Linked DNA regions of Homo sapiens: regions 2, 3, 4 and 5 are each reported to be linked to region 1. Evidence: microRNA targets listed by miRTarBase, many of them from high-throughput screens and not tested one by one. Region 1 holds a microRNA gene; each other region holds the end of a gene's coding sequence.

The links. Region 1 holds the annotated microRNA hsa-miR-324-3p (CCCACUGCCCCAGGUGCUGCUGG, at 2,691-2,713, opposite strand). A microRNA usually pairs through its seed, bases 2 to 8, with sites in the 3' UTR of a target mRNA and lowers its output. Matches are read on the target gene's strand: a 7mer-m8 pairs with bases 2 to 8, a 7mer-A1 pairs with bases 2 to 7 and ends in A, and an 8mer does both.
Region 2: miRTarBase lists ACOT7 as a target of hsa-miR-324-3p. The part of its 3' UTR that is shown has no 7-base or 8-base seed match.
Region 3: miRTarBase lists BAHD1 as a target of hsa-miR-324-3p. Seed matches in the 3' UTR shown: 7mer-m8 at 1,737-1,743.
Region 4: miRTarBase lists HSPA9 as a target of hsa-miR-324-3p. The part of its 3' UTR that is shown has no 7-base or 8-base seed match.
Region 5: miRTarBase lists RUVBL2 as a target of hsa-miR-324-3p. The part of its 3' UTR that is shown has no 7-base or 8-base seed match.

Annotation. Positions count from the first base shown.
Region 1 is chr17:7,220,618-7,224,617 of GRCh38, forward strand. MIR324 (microRNA 324) reads right to left here and starts at 2,762; the gene lies at 2,680-2,762. ACADVL (acyl-CoA dehydrogenase very long chain) reads left to right here. Exons shown (of 20, transcript NM_000018.4): 4 at 1-59; 5 at 149-213; 6 at 307-441; 7 at 921-1,065; 8 at 1,335-1,464; 9 at 1,560-1,685; 10 at 2,050-2,248; 11 at 2,516-2,620; 12 at 3,027-3,113; 13 at 3,196-3,258; 14 at 3,351-3,452; 15 at 3,529-3,626; 16 at 3,704-3,776; 17 at 3,863-3,935. RefSeq lists an enhancer at 1-220.
Region 2 is chr1:6,260,861-6,265,002 of GRCh38, reverse strand. ACOT7 (acyl-CoA thioesterase 7) reads left to right here. Exons shown (of 9, transcript NM_007274.4): 9 at 308-731. The coding sequence ends at 406. It overlaps GPR153 (G protein-coupled receptor 153), which reads left to right and starts at 3,905. Exons shown (of 6, transcript NM_207370.4): 1 at 3,905-4,142. RefSeq lists a silencer at 3,666-3,985.
Region 3 is chr15:40,465,426-40,469,567 of GRCh38, reverse strand. It overlaps BAHD1 (bromo adjacent homology domain containing 1), which reads right to left. Exons shown (of 7, transcript NM_014952.5): 6 at 4,133-4,142; 7 at 1,332-3,627. The coding sequence ends at 3,438. Among named protein-coding and RNA genes, the nearest start is that of CHST14, 3.5 kb to the left of the region's middle.
Region 4 is chr5:138,552,219-138,556,339 of GRCh38, reverse strand. It overlaps HSPA9 (heat shock protein family A (Hsp70) member 9), which reads left to right. Exons shown (of 17, transcript NM_004134.7): 17 at 226-2,584. The coding sequence ends at 303. Among named protein-coding and RNA genes, the nearest start is that of SNORD63B, 4.8 kb to the left of the region's middle.
Region 5 is chr19:49,015,313-49,019,454 of GRCh38, forward strand. RUVBL2 (RuvB like AAA ATPase 2) reads left to right here. Exons shown (of 15, transcript NM_006666.3): 14 at 260-374; 15 at 505-658. The coding sequence ends at 530. It overlaps LHB (luteinizing hormone subunit beta), which reads right to left and starts at 1,779. Exons shown (of 3, transcript NM_000894.3): 1 at 1,755-1,779; 2 at 1,235-1,402; 3 at 668-998. The coding sequence starts at 1,769. The coding sequence ends at 756. It overlaps SAXO3 (stabilizer of axonemal microtubules 3), which reads right to left. Exons shown (of 5, transcript NM_001396011.1): 4 at 3,561-3,688; 5 at 2,656-3,028. The coding sequence ends at 2,656. RefSeq lists enhancers at 2,500-2,794, 2,604-3,527 and a silencer at 2,771-2,960.

The sequences.
Region 1 (4,000 bases):
TGCTGTGGGAATGTTCAAAGGCCAGCTCACCACAGATCAGGTGTTCCCATACCCGTCCGGTAAGGGAAGGGATAATCAGAGCTGGGTGGGGCCAGGGTGGTTTCCCCTGCCAGCCTGGCCTGACCAGCCTGTCCCCCACCCTCTGCAGTGCTCAACGAAGAGCAGACACAGTTTCTTAAAGAGCTGGTGGAGCCTGTGTCCCGTTTCTTCGAGGTAAGGAATGACTCGGGGCTTGGTCCCTGGTGAGGTGTTTGGAGATGTTAAGCTCAAAAGGAGCCTGGATGTGGGATCCTGTGCCTTCCCCAGGAAGTGAACGATCCCGCCAAGAATGACGCTCTGGAGATGGTGGAGGAGACCACTTGGCAGGGCCTCAAGGAGCTGGGGGCCTTTGGTCTGCAAGTGCCCAGTGAGCTGGGTGGTGTGGGCCTTTGCAACACCCAGGTGAGGGCGCCCTATCGCCACATCCCAGTATGCCATACCCCAGCTTGGCAGACTCAGCTCTTTTGCCATAGACCTAGAGACTAGGGCTAAGGTCTCTTCTAAGCACCTGCCCTGGGTGCCTGTGGGATGGATGTTAACTGTCCAAACATAACACAATTTACATGCAGTCCCCTAGGCCTGAGCCATGGGCCTCACCCTGGTTCCCAAGTCCTTACAAATCTCTAAGTTGGGGATTGCCTAACAATAGACTGACTAGTAGCAAGTCACCCTCCTACCTAGACCTAAGACAGACCAGCATTCTCTGCTGTGCCCTTTGCACACCCCACTTCTTTTCTACACACTGGGGATGGCCCAGGTCAGGCACTGCCCTAGGTCAGGAACTGCCCTAGGTCAGGAACTGCCCTGTTGCCCACACTCTCCTGTTAAGGTCAGGTCCCCCTGCAGCCAGTGACAACCCCAGATTCCTGCTTCCCCTCCAGTACGCCCGTTTGGTGGAGATCGTGGGCATGCATGACCTTGGCGTGGGCATTACCCTGGGGGCCCATCAGAGCATCGGTTTCAAAGGCATCCTGCTCTTTGGCACAAAGGCCCAGAAAGAAAAATACCTCCCCAAGCTGGCATCTGGTGAGGCAACCCTAGGAGAGCCAGGGATTGGGGGGCACACTGGGCTTGGCACAGATTAGGCCAGTTGGCACTTAGATTATCAGATGGCTGAGCATTTCAGTTGGGGGAAGGTTTTGGGGAGGCATCACAGTGTGCTGGTTGGGACATGCAAAAGAACTGGATACTCCCAGGTGTTAAGGGGGAACTGCCTGCTGGAGGGATGGGGAAGTGGGCCGAGGGGACTTTGAAGCTCATCAGAACTTGGGGTAAAGTAGCTCTCTCCCCAACAGGGGAGACTGTGGCCGCTTTCTGTCTAACCGAGCCCTCAAGCGGGTCAGATGCAGCCTCCATCCGAACCTCTGCTGTGCCCAGCCCCTGTGGAAAATACTATACCCTCAATGGAAGCAAGCTTTGGATCAGGCAACCTGCCTCCCATTTCTCCCCTTCTCCTCCGCCCAATTCCAGGCCCCACTGCTCCCCGTCCTCCACGCCCTGAATATCCCATTCTTCCACAGTAATGGGGGCCTAGCAGACATCTTCACGGTCTTTGCCAAGACACCAGTTACAGATCCAGCCACAGGAGCCGTGAAGGAGAAGATCACAGCTTTTGTGGTGGAGAGGGGCTTCGGGGGCATTACCCAGTGAGTGAATTTGGGTTGGGGGAGCTTAGGACTGAGGGGCAGGACTGGGCTCCTGGGCAGATGGCTGTTGCAAGTCACCCTGGGGACGTGTGCAAAAGCCAAAGCAGGTGGACTGAATGTGGCCTTTGGGACTAATATGTATGCAACTGAGCTAAAGTTTTGGCTCCAGCAACCAAGTCCAACACAAAATAGGACATAGCCAGGCCTCCTTAGCCCTCAGGGCCTGAGGGGAAGTGGTGGCTGTAGCCTCTAATAGTCTAGTGGTCGTCATTCCTCCCTGGTGCATAAGGAGCGAAGGAGCAGTTTTTCCCCCAGTGACAACCTGTTGAACACACCTCTGCTTTCCCACACTGCCCTGACACAGTGGGCCCCCTGAGAAGAAGATGGGCATCAAGGCTTCAAACACAGCAGAGGTGTTCTTTGATGGAGTACGGGTGCCATCGGAGAACGTGCTGGGTGAGGTTGGGAGTGGCTTCAAGGTTGCCATGCACATCCTCAACAATGGAAGGTTTGGCATGGCTGCGGCCCTGGCAGGTACCATGAGAGGCATCATTGCTAAGGCGGTGAGTACCCTGCCCGAGTCCCTAGGTAACCCAAACAGAAGTCTCACTGTCCCCCTTGCCATGTGTCCCTGATCACTTGCAGGCACTCCCTACACTAGAAACTCCTCCCCTACCAGCAGCCCGACTTGCTAGCTTAGGTCTCCATCCAGCGTAGACTGAACTCTGGTTGTATGCAAAACCCATCCCTCTGGCGCAAGCCCAGCCCCTCTCCTAGGGAGACTGCAGAACCACACTGAACCACAGCGGGATGTGTGGACCCTCTTCCAGGTAGATCATGCCACTAATCGTACCCAGTTTGGGGAGAAAATTCACAACTTTGGGCTGATCCAGGAGAAGCTGGCACGGATGGTTATGCTGCAGTATGTAACTGAGGTGAGGGCCTCCCAAGCCCCTCTCCCTGGAGCCCTGGGGCTTTCTTCCCAGTCGGGTCAGACTACAACCCCCAGCAGCACCTGGGGCAGTGGGTCTCCAGCTTTACACCAATGCCCTAGGGGATGCGGGGAGGCATAGTCAGCTCAGCTTCTGCGAAGAGAGACAGCAATGATGTTCTGCTCAGGTGCCTGCCAGCAGTACCAGAAGTTAATTCTACCTCATCCCTTACATCCACCCCTTTTAAGAAAACAAATACCTGGAAGCACCTGATGAACTGACCCAGAACAAGTATCTGCCTGACCTGACAAGCTAGGTCAGCCCTTATCTTGGAGATCTGGGTGATGAGGCCAAGTCTGACAAAGCCCTTTGCAATTTTCCTTCCCATGTCCCAACTATGCAACCTCAGTCCATGGCTTACATGGTGAGTGCTAACATGGACCAGGGAGCCACGGACTTCCAGATAGAGGCCGCCATCAGCAAAATCTTTGGCTCGGTGAGGTCCCAGGCATGCTGGGAGGGAGTCCAGTTTGGGTGCTCAGCTCCCAAAACCAGTCTCATCTGTTCTTTGTCCCTAGGAGGCAGCCTGGAAGGTGACAGATGAATGCATCCAAATCATGGGGGGTATGGGCTTCATGAAGGTACAGGACGGTCTTCTGCAGAGCCTCGGCTGGGCCAGGGGTGGGTAGGCACATCTCAGCACGGGCATATAATTTGTGTGGCCCTGTGCTAGGAACCTGGAGTAGAGCGTGTGCTCCGAGATCTTCGCATCTTCCGGATCTTTGAGGGGACAAATGACATTCTTCGGCTGTTTGTGGCTCTGCAGGGCTGTATGGTAAGACAGAGAATTGGGTGGGGGTAGAGGTGGGGAGGACAGTGAGTCCTGACTGCTGGACCCTCTTCCCCCATAGGACAAAGGAAAGGAGCTCTCTGGGCTTGGCAGTGCTCTAAAGAATCCCTTTGGGAATGCTGGCCTCCTGCTAGGAGAGGCAGGCAAACAGCTGAGGCGGTAGGCTTAGGGCCAGAGCCAGGGGAGGGCAGGGTGGTGTATGGCAACTAACCAGTCATTCTCCCTCTTCCTCTCAGGCGGGCAGGGCTGGGCAGCGGCCTGAGTCTCAGCGGACTTGTCCACCCGGAGTTGAGTCGGAGTGGCGAGCTGGTAAGTGGCCAGGGGTCCAGGAGAGCCTGCATCAGGGACTGCAGCCGATGGCCCCTCTGAGCCCCGCACTGTCCCCATCTCTTAAGGCAGTACGGGCTCTGGAGCAGTTTGCCACTGTGGTGGAGGCCAAGCTGATAAAACACAAGAAGGGGATTGTCAGTAAGTGAGCTCTACACCATTCCGCCCCTCCCTTTCCTCTCCTTGAGACTAATGCCCCCACCCCC
Region 2 (4,142 bases), not on the chromosome of region 1:
ACCCGCCATGCCCTTAGTGTCTCCTCTATGGAGCTCTGCCACCTGTGGCTCCTGCGGCCCCTCAAAGCATCTTGGCTGAACATACCCAGCCCAGTCAATAGGCCCATCAGCGAGGTGGGACATGAGCCCCATGCCTGGGCTACCCGGCAGTCCCAGGAGGCCAGCGGGGCCGAGGCGTGGTACTCAGCATGCACCAGGGGTGGGGCAGATCCCACGGGTGGGGGGCAGGGCCCCAGGCCAGGTCACAAGGCCACGGCACTGGTTCTGCAGTGACCCTAACCTGCCTGTCTCTGTGTGTGGTCCACAGCCCGAGACCGAGGACGAGAAGAAGCGCTTTGAGGAAGGCAAAGGGCGGTACCTGCAGATGAAGGCGAAGCGACAGGGCCACGCGGAGCCTCAGCCCTAGACTCCCTCCTCCTGCCACTGGTGCCTCGAGTAGCCATGGCAACGGGCCCAGTGTCCAGTCACTTAGAAGTTCCCCCCTTGGCCAAAAACCCAATTCACATTGAGAGCTGGTGTTGTCTGAAGTTTTCGTATCACAGTGTTAACCTGTACTCTCTCCTGCAAACCTACACACCAAAGCTTTATTTATATCATTCCAGTATCAATGCTACACAGTGTTGTCCCGAGCGCCGGGAGGCGTTGGGCAGAAACCCTCGGGAATGCTTCCGAGCACGCTGTAGGGTATGGGAAGAACCCAGCACCACTAATAAAGCTGCTGCTTGGCTGGACCCACGTGTCCTGGGTGGTCATTTGTCTTGGGGGGGCTGCTTTCCCAGGGGGTGTGGGACATTGGGGCTCCCGTGGACAGTCTCAGCCCTCCCAGCACCAGCACCTGCATGTACCCTAGAACCTCAGGCACAGCCACACCGATTGGTGTCCGGCTGGTGACTTGCTGGCTATGAATGCCCATTTCCCGTGGGTCCCTGGTTTGGTGTCCTGGCCCCAGACACCCTGGCTCCCTGGACCTCATAGGCAGCCCAGATGCTGGGAGGATGTGGGCTCAGGGCCACGCTGCCTGGTGGGAGTGCCAGCACCCCACAACCCCCCTGTCTGGCTTGCAGAGGATGCCGGCTCTGAGCCTGTGTGGCTTTCCTATGAACAGGGTGGGGCTGCTGGGAAAGACTCAGCGAGGTGATGGTGTGGGAAGAGCCAAATGTGGCCTGGCTCAGCGTGTGGGAGCCCCACCCTGACCCAGCCTCTTGCTAGAAACTGCCTAGACACCCCAAAATCCTGTCTGAAGGAGCCCCCCAGCTGGCGCCAGGACTCTGTGCCTGACGTGGAAACTCCCCCAGCCACTCAGGCAGGAGTCTGCTGGGATGGCTTATAGGGCAGGGGTCTGAGGGACAGCACGAATGTGTGTCAGTGCCGTTGGTGTGAAGCTGTGGGCATACGTGTCACTGACATATCTGTGCATGTGCGTGTGCATCTGTCTGCATATCTGTGAGCACGTGTGTGGTGAGGGTATCGGTGTAGCAGGGTTGATCTGTGCATCTGGCCCAGCCAAGGCCACTACAGGGACCAGGACCCCACCTGCATCCATGGCTGAAAAGGAGGCCCTCCAATCAAGCACACCCAGAAGTGGCATCTGGGAGAATGTTCCCAATTCAGTCTGTCCCTGAAGCCCCAACATCTGTCCTGCCGCCTGGAGAAGACTGGCCCGTCAACAGCTGCGGCCTCGCACAAGGCTCCCTCTGGCCCCTGGAGAGCGAGGACTCGGCTCCAGATGTGCAGAAACACCAGCCAAGAGCTTGGGAATCTGTCCCGGGCCCCAGTCACGGCTGACGGGGTTATTTCCTGTCTGGGAGGGGGTTGGAGGTGGGAGGGACAAGCTCAGCCACATGAAGCTTCTGCCACGCCACCATGCCCCTTGGCCCCCCGGGGCTGGCCTCAGCCAGCCTCGGCCCCCAGCTCCACCCATGACCCATGCCAGAATGGTGCCCTGGGTTCAGAGCAATGAGGAGGCCACCCTTCCCAGCTAGCAGAAGGCCCAGGGCTGGCCACAGCAGTGCCTGAGCCCAGGGGCTCACTGAGGGGACCAGTTCCCCAAAGCACCCACACCCTTCACTTGAAGTTGGGCCCCGCATCAGACTCCCTAGTTCAGTCCTGGCTCAGCCACTCATCCGTGTGGCTTTGGGCAAACCAGGCACCTGAAAACCGCCTCCCAGGGGCACCGGGCACTTTGCAGCAGAACCCAGCACAGCACGAAATAAGCCAGGGCCCCGGGGCGGCCATCAGAGGCCATCTCCCACCTGCCCTAGAGCCAGCTGAGGCCGGGCAGAGGCACTGGTCCAGGCAGTGGGTCAGCTGGGCTGGCAGAGGGGAGCCAGGCCCAGACAGAGGCATGGCTCTCCATGGCTGTGTGTGCAATCTTAACCGTGGTGTTTCTAAGCGGCATGGCTCTCGGTGGCCATGTAATTAAGTGTGGCGTTTCTACCGTTTCACCCCGAGTCACAGGCGAGACACTTAGAAACACCACCCTTGATTACAGCTGCCCTGTGCCAGCCTCCCACTGCTGGTGGCCTATTTATAACCAGGACCACCTGGAGGGGGAGCCAACCTGTCCACAGAGGGCTCACTGGGGACACTGAGGGCCCTGGCTGCCCGAGAAACCACAGGGAGTATAGGTGTGCATGGCCCCAGATTCCCCCTTGCTCAGCCCCACACGTTATTGCGGGGCCTTTCTCTACAGACACTCCTCTTTTTGTCTCATGGGACGGACCCTAAGACCCATCCTGGGCCCCCTAAAAGCTGCTCAGGGACCTGGGGTGTGGGGACGGTTTAGGCAGGTGCAGGCTGTGGAGCAGCCCTGCCCGGACTGGGCAAGCTCCAAGCATCCGTTTTGGCTGCAATTGGTTTGGGTCTCCTCCTGGTCGGGTGCCTAGTTTCCTCCAGACACAGGGGTGCCTAGTCATGGATGTGTCCCAGAGGCACGGAAGGACACTATGCCAGGCAGCCCCAGAGGCCTTGTGCCCATTGTGTGTGTGGTCAGGTGCTTTCTAGAAAAGACAGGCACGATCCTCAGGAGGCGTCCTCTCCAGGGCCCCCATCAAGAAGCAGGAGGCTTTCCGCCTGCATGGGGCCAGCTGAGGCTGTCAGTCTGTGGGTGACAGCCTGTGCTCTATGAGGAGTGGTGATAGCATGAGGGCTTGGGAGGGAGGGGCGGAGGGGCGGGAAGAATGGGAGGAGGGGAGGAGGGGAGTAGGAGAAGGCTTCAGGCGCTGGGCTGCAGACCCTGGCCTCTCCCGGCTGGGCGGTGGTGCTCAGAGTTTCAGAGAGAACAATTTCTGAGCCTGTGGGGGTGGCGGGGACCACTCGGCAGCCCGGTGGCCCGTGCACTTTATTCCCTCAGTGGACCCCCCAGGCCCGGGGAGCAGCGTGAATCCGTAACTGGCCCAACCTTGCCCCTCGCTGCCCCTGCTTCAGACTGGATTCCCGGTTCCTAGAAGCCGCTGGCCATGCGTCCCTTGTCCTCTCCACGCCCCGCCCCGATTGTTCATCTTAGATGCGGCTTCCTCCAGGAAGGTCTCCCTGAGCCCCAGCCCTGGCCCCAGGTTCTCAGTGTCCATTCCTGCCCCAGCTCCCTCTGGCCCCCGGGCCCCCAGAGCTCCGGGCCTGGGTCTTGCCCCGGCGTCCGAAGGCGGCGTCCGGAGTGTGCACCGAGCCGAGCTGGGAGCCAGGGGCGCGGCGCTGTCAGGAGGCGCCACCAGCCCAGGGAGGCTCGGGCCGGCCGCGGGCGGACGCGGGGACACGGGTGGGCTGCGTACGGACGGACTGACGGAAGGACGGACGGGCTGACAGACCGACAGACGGCCGCGCCTCTGAGCGGGCGGGGGCGGGGCGGGCCGAGGGGCGGTGCGGAGGCCCCGGCGGAGACATGCGCCCTGCTCCGCCCCCCGCCCCCGGCCGCCCGGCGCAGCAGCGGAGCGGCGGGAGCTGAGCGAAGCGCGGCGGCGGCGGCGGCGCCTAGGGGAGGGAGGGGCGGCGGGGCCGAGCCCACCTAGCGGAGCGCGCCGGCCGCCGGTGGCCGCCGCCAGCATGCCCCGGCCCGCGGGCCGCTCCGCCGCCAGCCACCCCCGCGGCCCTCGGCGGCCTGCGCTCGGCCCGGGGGCGCGGGAACCGCAGCCGGAGCCGGAGGCGGG
Region 3 (4,142 bases), not on the chromosome of region 1:
CATCTGCAGGCTACCACCTGTCCATTTGCTGCACCAGAAGTTTGCGTGAAGGTTCTGCCTTGTCTACACTGCTCCTTGCTTCCAATAATCCTAAAGGTATACATTTCTGGTGATAGGATTTTCTATTAAAATCATATTTTCCAGTAAGTATGTCCTTTAAACCAGGAGAGGAAAAAAAGGCCTTAGACCTTTAAAAATCTTTTGATAATGTGGCCACATGTGCTCCCTTCTGTGTTACAGGGTAGTTTTCTGTGTTAGCAGTCAGGGTGAGGCAGGGGGAGTCCTTGGGCCTGGTACTTATCTCCATACCAATTTCTTGTCTGTAAGATAAGGACAAGCTACCACTCGCCTCAAGGGAGTCTTGTGGACACCACACTGAAGGCAGAGCTAGAAAAATCCATGGTGGTGTCTGTGCCACCAATAAATTCTGAAAAAATGTTCCTGCCCACATGCACCATGCCTTAGCAAAATGCAGAAGTGGAGGCGGGGCGGGGGGGTGCTGTGGCTCCCAGGAACCTCTATGGCCTTAGAGCTGCCCCACCTGGAACATGGTCAACACTGAGGCTTCCAGGCTGGGACCAGGGCTGGGCTGAAGCAGGGGTCAGCTGGCCGCAGACCCTTGGCCCCATGATGTGGCCTTCCTCAGCAAGCAAGAAGCACCAGCTGCAAGACACTGAGGCCCTAGGACAGTGCTGGCCAGTTACCCAAGGTGATGAGGAGGGATGCTTTTTTTTTCTTTTCTGAGACAGGATCTCACTCTGTCACCCAGGCTGCAGTGGTATGATCACGGCTCACTGCAGCCTCGTGCTCTTGGGATCAAGCAATCCTCCTACCTTAGCCTCCTGACTGAGACTATAGGCATGCACTGACATGCCGGGCTAATTTTTAAATTTTTCGAGAGACATGGTCTATGTTGCCTAGGCTGGTCTTAAACTCCTAGGCTCAAGTAACCCTCCTGCCTCTGCCTCCCAAAGCACTGGGATTACAGGCAGGAGCCACTGCATGAGGCCAGTGATAAGAAGGTATCTTTGCCATGTACCTACTTGGGGACCAATTTCCAGGTCACTGGTCAGGTGAGGGCTGGCAACTGAAGTATTTCACACAGACCTAAGCAGGCAGCTGTGGCCACCATGAAATCAAGAAGTCAACTCCAAGTTCCCAGTCCCTCTGTCTCCTTCCCTCACTCTCTTTTCCCTCTGCTTCCCTGCCCTCTTTGCTCATTGGCCTTGGTGAGCATCCATGCCACAGGGGTTAAGAGGGACCTCTGAAATAAGAATAGTGGGTCTCTCCACACCCACACACCAAAAGATGACAGGACACACAGGAAACGATCCTTTTCTAAATCAATACAATTTCTCAAATTTATTTTTTTCTTAAAGAAGTACTTCTAATCTCTGTCAAAAGGGAGGTGAGGAAAGGTCCTTCCTCCCTTGTAAACACTGAAATACAGATCTGGGAAACCAGGATCAACACACACAAAAAGTGCATTTTACAAAATATCAACTAAAATATATTTTACATGGATTATGCTTCCATTGAAATTCTACCAGCTGCATTTTCAGGTTCGAAAAAATATTTCCACATCTAAGAGATTTCAAAAGCATTTAAGTTCGGGGCAGCCAAGACCCTACCTCCTGGGAGGAGGGCCTTCATCTCCTTTCCTGCTAGGTGAGGCTGGGCTCCTTGGCAGCAAGGGCCCAGAATGAGCAGGCTCCAAGGCTGGCTCTGCAGAGCCCCCACTGCCACTCTGCCAACCTCATTTACTGCCCCATCCTCCCAGACAGACACCTTCCTCCAAACAGCTTATTCAATATAAGGAGATCCAAGTCCCTTCCCTTCAGGTTTGGGATCAGGCTTCCCAAGCATAAATTCACCTCTGAAGCCTCCAGGCCTCACCCAAACCCAATGACCAATCAGGAGCAACTCATCTACTAAGGGACAGGGCATGGCAAGTTGGGGGAGCCCTCAGGGTTCATTTCCACCTCCCTCTGCAGCCCCTGCCCAGCTGTCCTCACCCAGTGCCACCTCCTAAGCCTGCTGGGTTCATCTGCCCTTCCTCCCTAAGGGAAGACCCAGGGCTGCAGTTCTCAGCCCCAGCCCCTGCCCCCAGGGGTATGCCCTTGTGGAAGTGCTCAGCTAGCAGGTTCCCAGCACCAGGCCCAAGCCACACTGCACTCCACTCCCTCTCCCACCATACTCCTCTTTGGTACAGATAGGAAATAACCAGGCTGCTCCAGCCCCCTCACAGAGTCTCAGGGCCAGGGCCAAGGCCTAGTCTCCACAAGGACAACAGGGGACTGAGCCTGTTAGTCTACTCTGGGGAGCAGCATGAGGTGAGAACAGGGCCTCTGGGCAACAGGAACAAACTGAAAATGCAAGTCCTTAGCTCCTAGAGCAAGTGGCTGCAGCTCAGCAGGTCCGTGGACTGATACAGTGTTGATTCTTGCTAGGATGTAAATTAGTGCAATCTACAAAAGACTAGGGAAAGGGTGGCAGGGCAAGGGGAGCCACAGCACTCCTTTGGTTTGATTTCAGGTGGGTGTGGCTTGAAGAATCACGTGTGAAGTTCTGCAAGAGGTTTCCTGGAACCTCCATGTGTAAGGCAAGAGGAAAAATCTTCAACAAATCAGGTAGCAATTTTCCTTGCCCCCTGCCCCCAACCCTCTCCCAGCACCCATCTTCCCTCCCAGATATGACAAACCCCACAATCATCAGTTAACTTTCTGGGAAGCCAGACCCGCTGGGTGGCCGTCTCTGGGAGGTGGACAGGAGACTCCCACAAGTGGGCCACACCCATGACTGTGAGAGGTGGGTCAACTTGTCCCAGCACCAGTTGCTACTGCAGGGCAAAGGAGGAAAGCCAGAGAAAAGGCCTCAAGTCTAGGAAGAGGAAGTCAATGCTCTGGAAGCCAGACTCTGGCTCTCTATGCCTCAAAGGAACAAGCTCAGAGCTGTGCTGGGATCTAGGAAAGCCTGGTCCCAGGCTGAAGGGGAAGCGGCGGGTCACAGTGGGTGAGGTAAAGCTGGCCCCCACTCCCCCTTTGAGGGCAAGGGGGAGGCTACAGAAGGGCCTGTTGGGTCTGGTTCCTGAAAGACCTTGCCCCTCCTTCCCGCCCCCACCCTCCTAGGGCCCCATTTCCCTCAGGCTTGGCCCAGCCTCAGAGAAGACTACTTTTCGGAAATCTCCACCCAGGGGAACCACAGAAGGTACCTTGGGCCAAGCTGAGAGTTCTGATGCTTTTCTTATACCCTGGCCTCCCCAGCTCCCTCCCCTGGAGCCCAGAACCCACAGGGGCCCCTGCCCTCCCCCCCAAGAAAACCACAGGCCAGCAAACTTAGGCCTCTGTGGCCCCCTAACCAAGTGCTGTGCTTCAAGCAGTGCCCCCTACCCCGAGCCCCACTTGCCCATGGGTAGCCCCAGCATGGGCATGAGGAGGCTACTGGGGGTTCTTAAGGATGCGCCCGTGGCGGAAGTCATAGACATGGCGGCAAAGGAACACCAGCTCAGGGTCCGTGTCCTCTGGCACTGTGCGGTGGGGTGGGGTGGAATAGTCTGCAGAGGGGGGAACCAGTGCTGTCTTTCGGCTGGGGAGGCCTTCACCTCGGCGCTTGGCCATGGCACAGAACCTGTAGAGAGATACCATTCACTGTCTTTACTCCAGCCACTTTTGCAGGAAGACCAATTCCTTCCCTACCCTACCCTACCCGACCCAGAGAGCTAGGCTATCCTAGCTCCCCAAGGGGTGGTACTGTCTCCACCCATCCCAGGGATGATGTCTGCTCTGCCAACCACCAGGCTATCTTCTCTGTCACTGGAGAACCACACTTGCCAGGGCCTCTCTCCATTTGCCTGCCAATTCGCCTAAATTTTTTCCAAGAGCAGTAATGTTACCCCCCAACTCTGCTCCAACCATTCTACCTCAGTGTGGCAACACAATTTTTCTTCTTTCTTCCAAAAAATATCAGATGGTAGAGGCAAGCAATAGGGAAGTAAGTTCTGGGAGATTAGGCTCAGTGAGTAAGATCAGGTAGAGAGCAGAATGAGATCCTCTCGGGGAATTCCAAGCAGCCCCAAATATGCCTGGGGAGCCTGAGGGAAGAGGCCAGCCAGAGGGTGCAGGGAACCACCTACCTGCAGTACT
Region 4 (4,121 bases), not on the chromosome of region 1:
GAGTTGGGAGATAGTCTCCTGCCGTCTTGACTCTACTTTGGCATTGGAGTTAGTGTCAAAGGGAAGGAATCCAGAAACCACCAGTAGGGTAGAAAGTGGGGAGGGGGAGTGGAATAGAAATGAATGATGAGGACATATGTGGGTCCCTCATCTTGGAGTGCAACAAAGAGCAAATGGTTAGCTCTAACGTTAAATCTGAGTGGCTCTCAAATGTTTTCTTAACAGATGGCATCTGAGCGAGAAGGCTCTGGAAGTTCTGGCACTGGGGAACAAAAGGAAGATCAAAAGGAGGAAAAACAGTAATAATAGCAGAAATTTTGAAGCCAGAAGGACAACATATGAAGCTTAGGAGTGAAGAGACTTCCTGAGCAGAAATGGGCGAACTTCAGTCTTTTTACTGTGTTTTTGCAGTATTCTATATATAATTTCCTTAATTTGTAAATTTAGTGACCATTAGCTAGTGATCATTTAATGGACAGTGATTCTAACAGTATAAAGTTCACAATATTCTATGTCCCTAGCCTGTCATTTTTCAGCTGCATGTAAAAGGAGGTAGGATGAATTGATCATTATAAAGATTTAACTATTTTATGCTGAAGTGACCATATTTTCAAGGGGTGAAACCATCTCGCACACAGCAATGAAGGTAGTCATCCATAGACTTGAAATGAGACCACATATGGGGATGAGATCCTTCTAGTTAGCCTAGTACTGCTGTACTGGCCTGTATGTACATGGGGTCCTTCAACTGAGGCCTTGCAAGTCAAGCTGGCTGTGCCATGTTTGTAGATGGGGCAGAGGAATCTAGAACAATGGGAAACTTAGCTATTTATATTAGGTACAGCTATTAAAACAAGGTAGGAATGAGGCTAGACCTTTAACTTCCCTAAGGCATACTTTTCTAGCTACCTTCTGCCCTGTGTCTGGCACCTACATCCTTGATGATTGTTCTCTTACCCATTCTGGAATTTTTTTTTTTTTAAATAAATACAGAAAGCATCTTGATCTCTTGTTTGTGAGGGGTGATGCCCTGAGATTTAGCTTCAAGAATATGCCATGGCTCATGCTTCCCATATTTCCCAAAGAGGGAAATACAGGATTTGCTAACACTGGTTAAAAATGCAAATTCAAGATTTGGAAGGGCTGTTATAATGAAATAATGAGCAGTATCAGCATGTGCAAATCTTGTTTGAAGGATTTTATTTTCTCCCCTTAGACCTTTGGTACATTTAGAATCTTGAAAGTTTCTAGATCTCTAACATGAAAGTTTCTAGATCTCTAACATGAAAGTTTTTAGATCTCTAACATGAAAACCAAGGTGGCTATTTTCAGGTTGCTTTCAGCTCCAAGTAGAAATAACCAGAATTGGCTTACATTAAAGAAACTGCATCTAGAAATAAGTCCTAAGATACTATTTCTATGGCTCAAAAATAAAAGGAACCCAGATTTCTTTCCCTATTTCTGCTTTTCTGTCCTCAGTGTACTGGCTTGTCCCAAATTCTCTGATGTAGTTCTAATAATTATCATGTGCTGACAACCTGAGCAGAAAGGCAACTACATCTTTATTCAATGTTAAGATTTCCCAAAAGTCTTCCAGCACATTTCCCTTATGTTTCATGGATGAATGTCATATGCCATGTTCAAAAGAGTCTGTTATCAAGATGGGCTTAGAATATCAGACACAATGGCTCCTTTTATAATGTTTTGTAATATGTAGAAATGAGATTACTGTATTTCCAAAAATCAGTATAAGAAATCAATTTAATTTGCAAGTATGAAGGAAGTGATTTAGACAACATTTTTGGAAGATTCAGTGCTTGTTAACACCCATGTAAAAGATTCTTGGGATTCGTGAAAAATTCTAGGCTCAGGTTTCCAACCACATGAACACTCAATGGGAACATTGTAGGATTATGAAGGATTGTTATATGGTGTGTTGGAAAATAACTTTTAGCATTTTTGGTTGGCCCTTGCCCACTGCCTCTACTGTCTCCTAAAGATAACTTTAAAAGCCCTCCAGGATTTCCAAAGTACTCCAGTTGAGAACTACTGGCTTAATGCTAGTCAAGATTCATCCTTGGGATCAGAGAGAGGAGCCAAATGCCCAAGCAAAATATATATTTGAGTTCTATTAGGAGGGAGAAGTTGCTTGGGTATGGGTGGACACAGTATTTCAGTCACCTATCAGTAAAGCTAATAGCATAAATAGCAAGAAGGTATATGGAGATTTCCTACAGCCAATAGGATATATATCTAGAATAAGATTTACTGTAAGAAAGAAACTGGCTCACAATTATGGAACCGAGGTCCCACCCACAGTCCACTGCTGGGAAAGCTGTTGGGGTAAAATTTCAGTGACCAGGAACACAGTGGTGTCCTAGTCCGAGGTTAGAAGAATATGGATGTCTTAGCTCTGGCAGTTCTATATAGGCCCTTAACTGATTAGATGATGTCCACTCACATCAAAGCAGAGCAATCTCCAATTCAATACTAATCTCTTCTGGAGAGAGACAAATGTTTAACCCGTTAAATGGCATCAATGGCTAAACTGACACATAAAATTAACTATCACAAAAGGCAAAAAGAAATGATTGGTTTTATTCTTTAGTAGAGCCTCCCTTTAGTGATTGTAAGTACTTGCTTAGGTCCCAAGAAGAACTTACGGTATCCCTCTTACACCAACTTACTGTTTTTGGTTTTTTGTGTTTTGTTTGTTCTTTTGGTTTTTGTTTTGAGATGGAGTCTTGCTCTGTTGCCCAGGCTGGATTGCAGTGGTGTGATCTCAGCTCACTGCAACCTCAACCTCTGCCTCCTGGGTTCTAGCAATTCTCCCACCTCAGCCTCTTGAGTAGCTGGTACTACAGGTGCGCACCACCACACCCAGCTAATTTTTTTTTTTTTTTTTTTGAGACAGTCTTGTCGCCCAGGCCGGAGTGCAGTGGTGCGATCTCAGCTCACTGCAACCTCCACCTCCCAGGTTCAAGCCGATTCTCCTGCCTCAGCCTCCCTAGTAGCTGGGATTACAGGCACCCTGCCACCACACCCAGCTAATTTTGGATTTTTAGTAGAGACGGGATTTCACCACGTTGTCCAGGCTGGTCTTGAACTTCTGACCTCAAGTGATCCACTCCCCTCGGCCTCCCAAAGTGCTGGGATTACAGGCTTGAGTCACTGTGCCCGGTCTAATTTTTGTACTTTCAGTAGACACGGGGTTTTGCCATGTTGGCTAGGCTGGTCTCAAGCTCCTGACCTCAGGTGATCCATCGCACCCAGCCTCCTTTTTTTATGTTGTTTTTTGAGACAGGGTCTTGCTGTCACCCAGGCTATAGTGCAGTGGTGCATTCATAGCTCACTGCAACCTCGAACTCCTGGGCTCAAGCACTCCTCCTGCCTTAGCCTCCCAAGTAGTTAGGACTACAGGTGCACACCACCACACCTGGCTCACCTCTCGAGCTCAAGTGAGCCTCTCACCTCAGCCTATGGAGTGGTTGGGACCACAGGTGCAAGCTACCGTGCCAGGCTATTTTTTTTTTTTTTTTTTTTTTTTTGAGGGGGGGAGAGACAGGATCTCACACTCCTGACCTCAAGCAATCTTCCCACCTCAGCCTCCCAAAGTGGTGGGATGACAAGCATGAGACACGGTGCCCAGCCTGATTATTTGTGTTGAGTGAGGTATACATTATCAGTAGAAATACTACATACATGTGTACATAATGTGTCAATTCTCAGGGAAATCAAGACATTCCATTTCTTTGATCCACGTAACATTTATAGTAGTGACTACAAGCAAGATGGAGCAGCAGAAATAAAAGCAAGTTCTTACAAACTGCATGAGAAGATTGGGTATGAAGAAACAATTCAAATTTTGGAAATAACCAATATTCAAGAGACCCTTCACCATTTCAGATACCATTGCAACTCTATTCTCCAGTCATAAGGCCAGGTTTTTTTGTTTTGTTTTTGTTTTGAGACAGAGTCTCTCTCTGTCACCCAGGCTGGAGTGCAGTGGCATGATCTCAGCTCACTGCAGCCTCCATCTCCCGGATTCAAGCGATTTTCCTGCCTCAGCCTCCTGAGTAGCTGGGATTACAGGTGCATGCCACCACACCCGGCTAAGTTTT
Region 5 (4,142 bases), not on the chromosome of region 1:
TAGGTATCAGTAAATCTCTCTTGACTTAAGTAGATGCTGTTAGGTCCACCTTACAGATAAAGAAACTGAGGAATGAAGAGGCTGGGCCCACAACAAGGAGATGGCCAGGCAGGATTTGAACCCAGGCAATCTGGCCCAGAATGCCCTCCCCTCACATGCCACACTCTGCTGCCTAGAGCATGGAGGTGGCATACGCTGGGGTCTGTGCCTTGAGCCTCACGGAGAGGGGCCCAACTGAGGACTCGCCCTCCCCCTCCAGGGTACAGAAGTGCAGGTGGATGACATCAAGCGGGTCTACTCACTCTTCCTGGACGAGTCCCGCTCCACGCAGTACATGAAGGAGTACCAGGACGCCTTCCTCTTCAACGAACTCAGTAAGAATCCCCACCCCGCACCTGCACTGCCAGAGCCAACCTCAGAGGGAGGAAGAGGGAGCTCGGCGTAGAAGGCTCAGGCCCTGCCACCTGGGCGACACTGACCATGTGGCCTTCCTTCTCCCCACAGAAGGCGAGACCATGGACACCTCCTGAGTTGGATGTCATCCCCCGACCCCACCCTGTTTTCCACCAGAGTTCTGACACTGTGACTCTGTATAAAATGGTTGGGAAGCTGCACCCACCCTGTGTATGTGTGGTTGCCCTGAGCCCACAGAAAGACACCTCCAGAGTGCGGATTGAGAAGCCTTTATTGTGGGAGGATCGGGGTGTCAGGGCTCCAGGAGTCGGGATGGACTTGGAAGGCTGCGGGGAGGGTCTTTAGAGGAAGAGGAGGCCTGAGAGTTGGGGGTGGTCACAGGTCAAGGGGTGGTCTTTGGGACCCCCACAGTCAGAGGTGCTGCGGCGGCAGGGTCCACAGCGACAGCTGAGAGCCACAGGGAAGGAGACCACGGGGTCCACACCACGCGGGCAGCCAGGGAGCCGGATGGACTCGAAGCGCACATCACGGTAGGTGCACACCACCTGAGGCAGGGGCGGCAGGACCGCCTGCAGCACGCGCATCTGGAGGCCGTGTGAGTGGGGGAATGAGCATGTGCCTGAGGCCAGCGCCTCAGCTGAGCTCCCAAGCTGACCCCACAGGTCCTGGACTCAGGAGCCCAGGAAGCCCTCTGTTCCTGCCTTCCCACACCCCATTCCCCAACCGCAGGCCAGAGAGGCAGACCACCCTTCCTCCCCCGCTGCCTCTGTGGGTCTGGCCCTGAGGTGGCAGCATCTGCCCCTGGCCCCAGGCAGCTCACCATGGTGGGGCAGTAGCCGGCACAGATGGTGGTGTTGACGGTGATGCACACTGGGCAGCCCTCCTTCTCGACAGCCAGGATGGCATTGATGGGGTGGCACCATGGCCGAAGCGGCTCCCTGGATGCCCATGCCCCGCCCATGCTCAGCAGCAGCAACAGCAGCAGCCCCTGGGACAAGGACACTGCTTCACCCAGGTCTGAGACCGCAGCCCCGAGTCCTGGCCTTCCCATCCCGCGTGGTACACCACCCACAAAGACCCAGAGACCCTTCCCGGCATCTCCTATTCAGGACCCACCACCCGGACACCTGCCTTTCAGAGCCCACCCCACAGCCCAGAGGACCTGAGATGCCCCAACATTTCAGATCCCCACCCTCAGGAACTGCCCCACCTGAAGCTTACTGGGGGTCATGCCCCTCCAGAAAGAGGCCTCCTTCCACAGCTCACACGGGTCTGCCCCTTCTCATGCCAGTGATGGCCTGGAAGGAGGTGGAAGGTGCCCAGGGGCCCTGTAGTCTTACCTGGAGCATCTCCATCCTTGGTGCATCCCCTGCCTCGTGTATCTGGCTATATACCTCGGGGTTGTGGGGGCGGCAAGGCCACCAGGAGGTGATAGGATGCTGGGGTAACCTGGACACTAATCCCCCCGGGGGCGAGAGGTGCACATGGCCAGGGAGGCGCAGGAGTGGCTCAGCAGAGCGCCCCAGCCCTCTCCCCTCAGTGGTCTAGCGCCAGAGGTGAGGCAGAGACCACGGTGAAGTGACCTCAGAGACCCAGTTGTCGAGTGCTAGGGACTAGTCGAGCCTGGAGGCACAGGGAGTAGGGTGTAGGAAGGCCTGCCTCTGCCAATTGTGGGGTCTTGGGAGCCAGGAGGAGGCCATGACCCGAGAAAGGTGCTGGACTGAAGCCTCAACCCTCCACTTGAGGCTTTCCTGCACCACAGTCCAACCTAACAGGAGGGGCGCTGCTTCGGACTTAGCTTCTGCCCAGTGAGAGAGGGTCTCCCCGTGACTGTGCTGCCAGGGAAGCCACTTGACCCAGATGCCCCCAAGGAGGGATTAAGCCCGAGCCCCACCTCTCCCTTAGGGACCTCCGCCCACCCTACCCTCAAGCCAGGATGCCCGGAGCGTCCCCGGAAGTGGGTGTGGTTCAGGTGATTTAACTCATTATTTAATACGCCCGCAGGGTGCGTGTCTTGCCCCCGGGGCCACAGCCTGCAAGGACATTATCTGGACTTAGTCCCCTCTCCGTGATGCCGCAGCTGAGTGGGTGTCTGGGCTAGTCCCGCCCCCACGTTGCCAATAGACGTAATGAGTGCGACTCAGGCTGGGTCCGGAACCCTTCCTAGTGAGCGGAGGTCCCGAGCTCCGCTCGGCAGCGCGGCCCTGGGGGCGGGTCTGGGGTGGGGCTGGCCCTGACGGCTCACACCAGCGCCGGCTTCAAGCTGCCATAGCTGGAGTTCTCGGTACTGTAGGCTTTCGGCACGCTGTAGATGCCCCGCAGGGGCTTCCAGTGCGGGCCGCCCCAGGGCGCCTCCAGCGGGCAGAAGCGGTCGAGCCGCCGGAGCGGGTGCAGCAGGGGGCTGTAGGACTCCTGAGCCAGAGACAGGGCTCCCCGGTGCGGCATGGCCGAGGTCACCGGGCTGACGCGCGGCACGCGGACCCGCGGTGGTCGGGGCGGCCGGGAGGAGCGCGGACAGGGCGGCCGCTGCGGGCCGTGGCTCCAGACCTGGGGCGTCTCTTCGAAGCTCCAGTAGGTCAGGGAGTCCTTGCGGGGGTATCCGGACAGCTCCGTCCTGTGGGAGCAGGGCGGGATGGTGAGGATACAGCTGGATCCTTGGGGACGAGTTTCAGACCTCGGGATCTAAGGAGTCTGCACATTCAAACTCCTGCATTTCCAGGCGAGCACCCCTTAGGAAGGACGCGACCCGGCACGCGTTGCCTGCGTTCCTGGGTCCTCGAGGTACTTAACGTCCTGGAAACTGAGCTTTCGCATCCTAGGGAAGTAAAAGGGGACTTTCGCTTCCTTGGGAAGGAGTATCTGGGGGCTCAAGTACCGAAGGAGGCCCTGCCCTCAGATCCGGAATCCCCTCGAGCCGCTGTGCAGGCTTCCTGTCCCTACCGCGGTTCCTGAGAGGTGACACTAAGGACTCCTGGGTGCTTAAAAAAAAAAGGGAGGGGCTGAGGCCTGAACTTTGGTTCTTGCTGCTACAGAAGTCGAGGCTGAGACCACCGGCTCAGGGAATGGGAGCCAGCCCAGGGGCTCGGCGTGCACCGGCCACGGCGGGGGCTGTGCAGGAGGCGGTGCCGAGCGAGAGCCCGGCTTACTTGGGATAGAACCGAAAGTCCCGCGCCGAGGTGGTCAGATAGAGCTGGCGGCGGTCCAGGACGCCCCGGTCGGATACTGTGAAAGGCCGGCCAGACAGCTCGGGGTTCTTCGTCCAGGCAATTAGAGCCTGAGCAAGATTGGGGGAGGAGGCATACCCAAGACATAGATTTCATACCCCATCCCAAGCCCTGGGTCCCGAGTTCAGAATCCCTCTCCTTCGGCCTCGACAGCCATGACGGCCACGGCCCTCACACCCCGCCCCAGGGTTAGAGCCCTTCCTGCCACCCACGCCAGGGAACTTCAGCTTCCTTTCTCATACCCGAACCCTTCCCAGCCTCACCTCCCTAAATCCAAGCACCTTCTGCTGTTCAAGGAACTCAAACCCAAGCCCCCAGCCACCAAAAACAACCTCCCTGGTTCCGCTCTGTCTTAAACCGTCTTGGTGTGGCCACTGGAGCTGAGCTGCATCTTGGGCAGCAACTCCAAGTTACCTCTCCCAACTCCCACCTGACCCCGTCTCAGAATATTCTAGTCTCCTCCCCACCCACAGCCCGCCGTCTAGCTCCGCAGCAGCTTAGGAG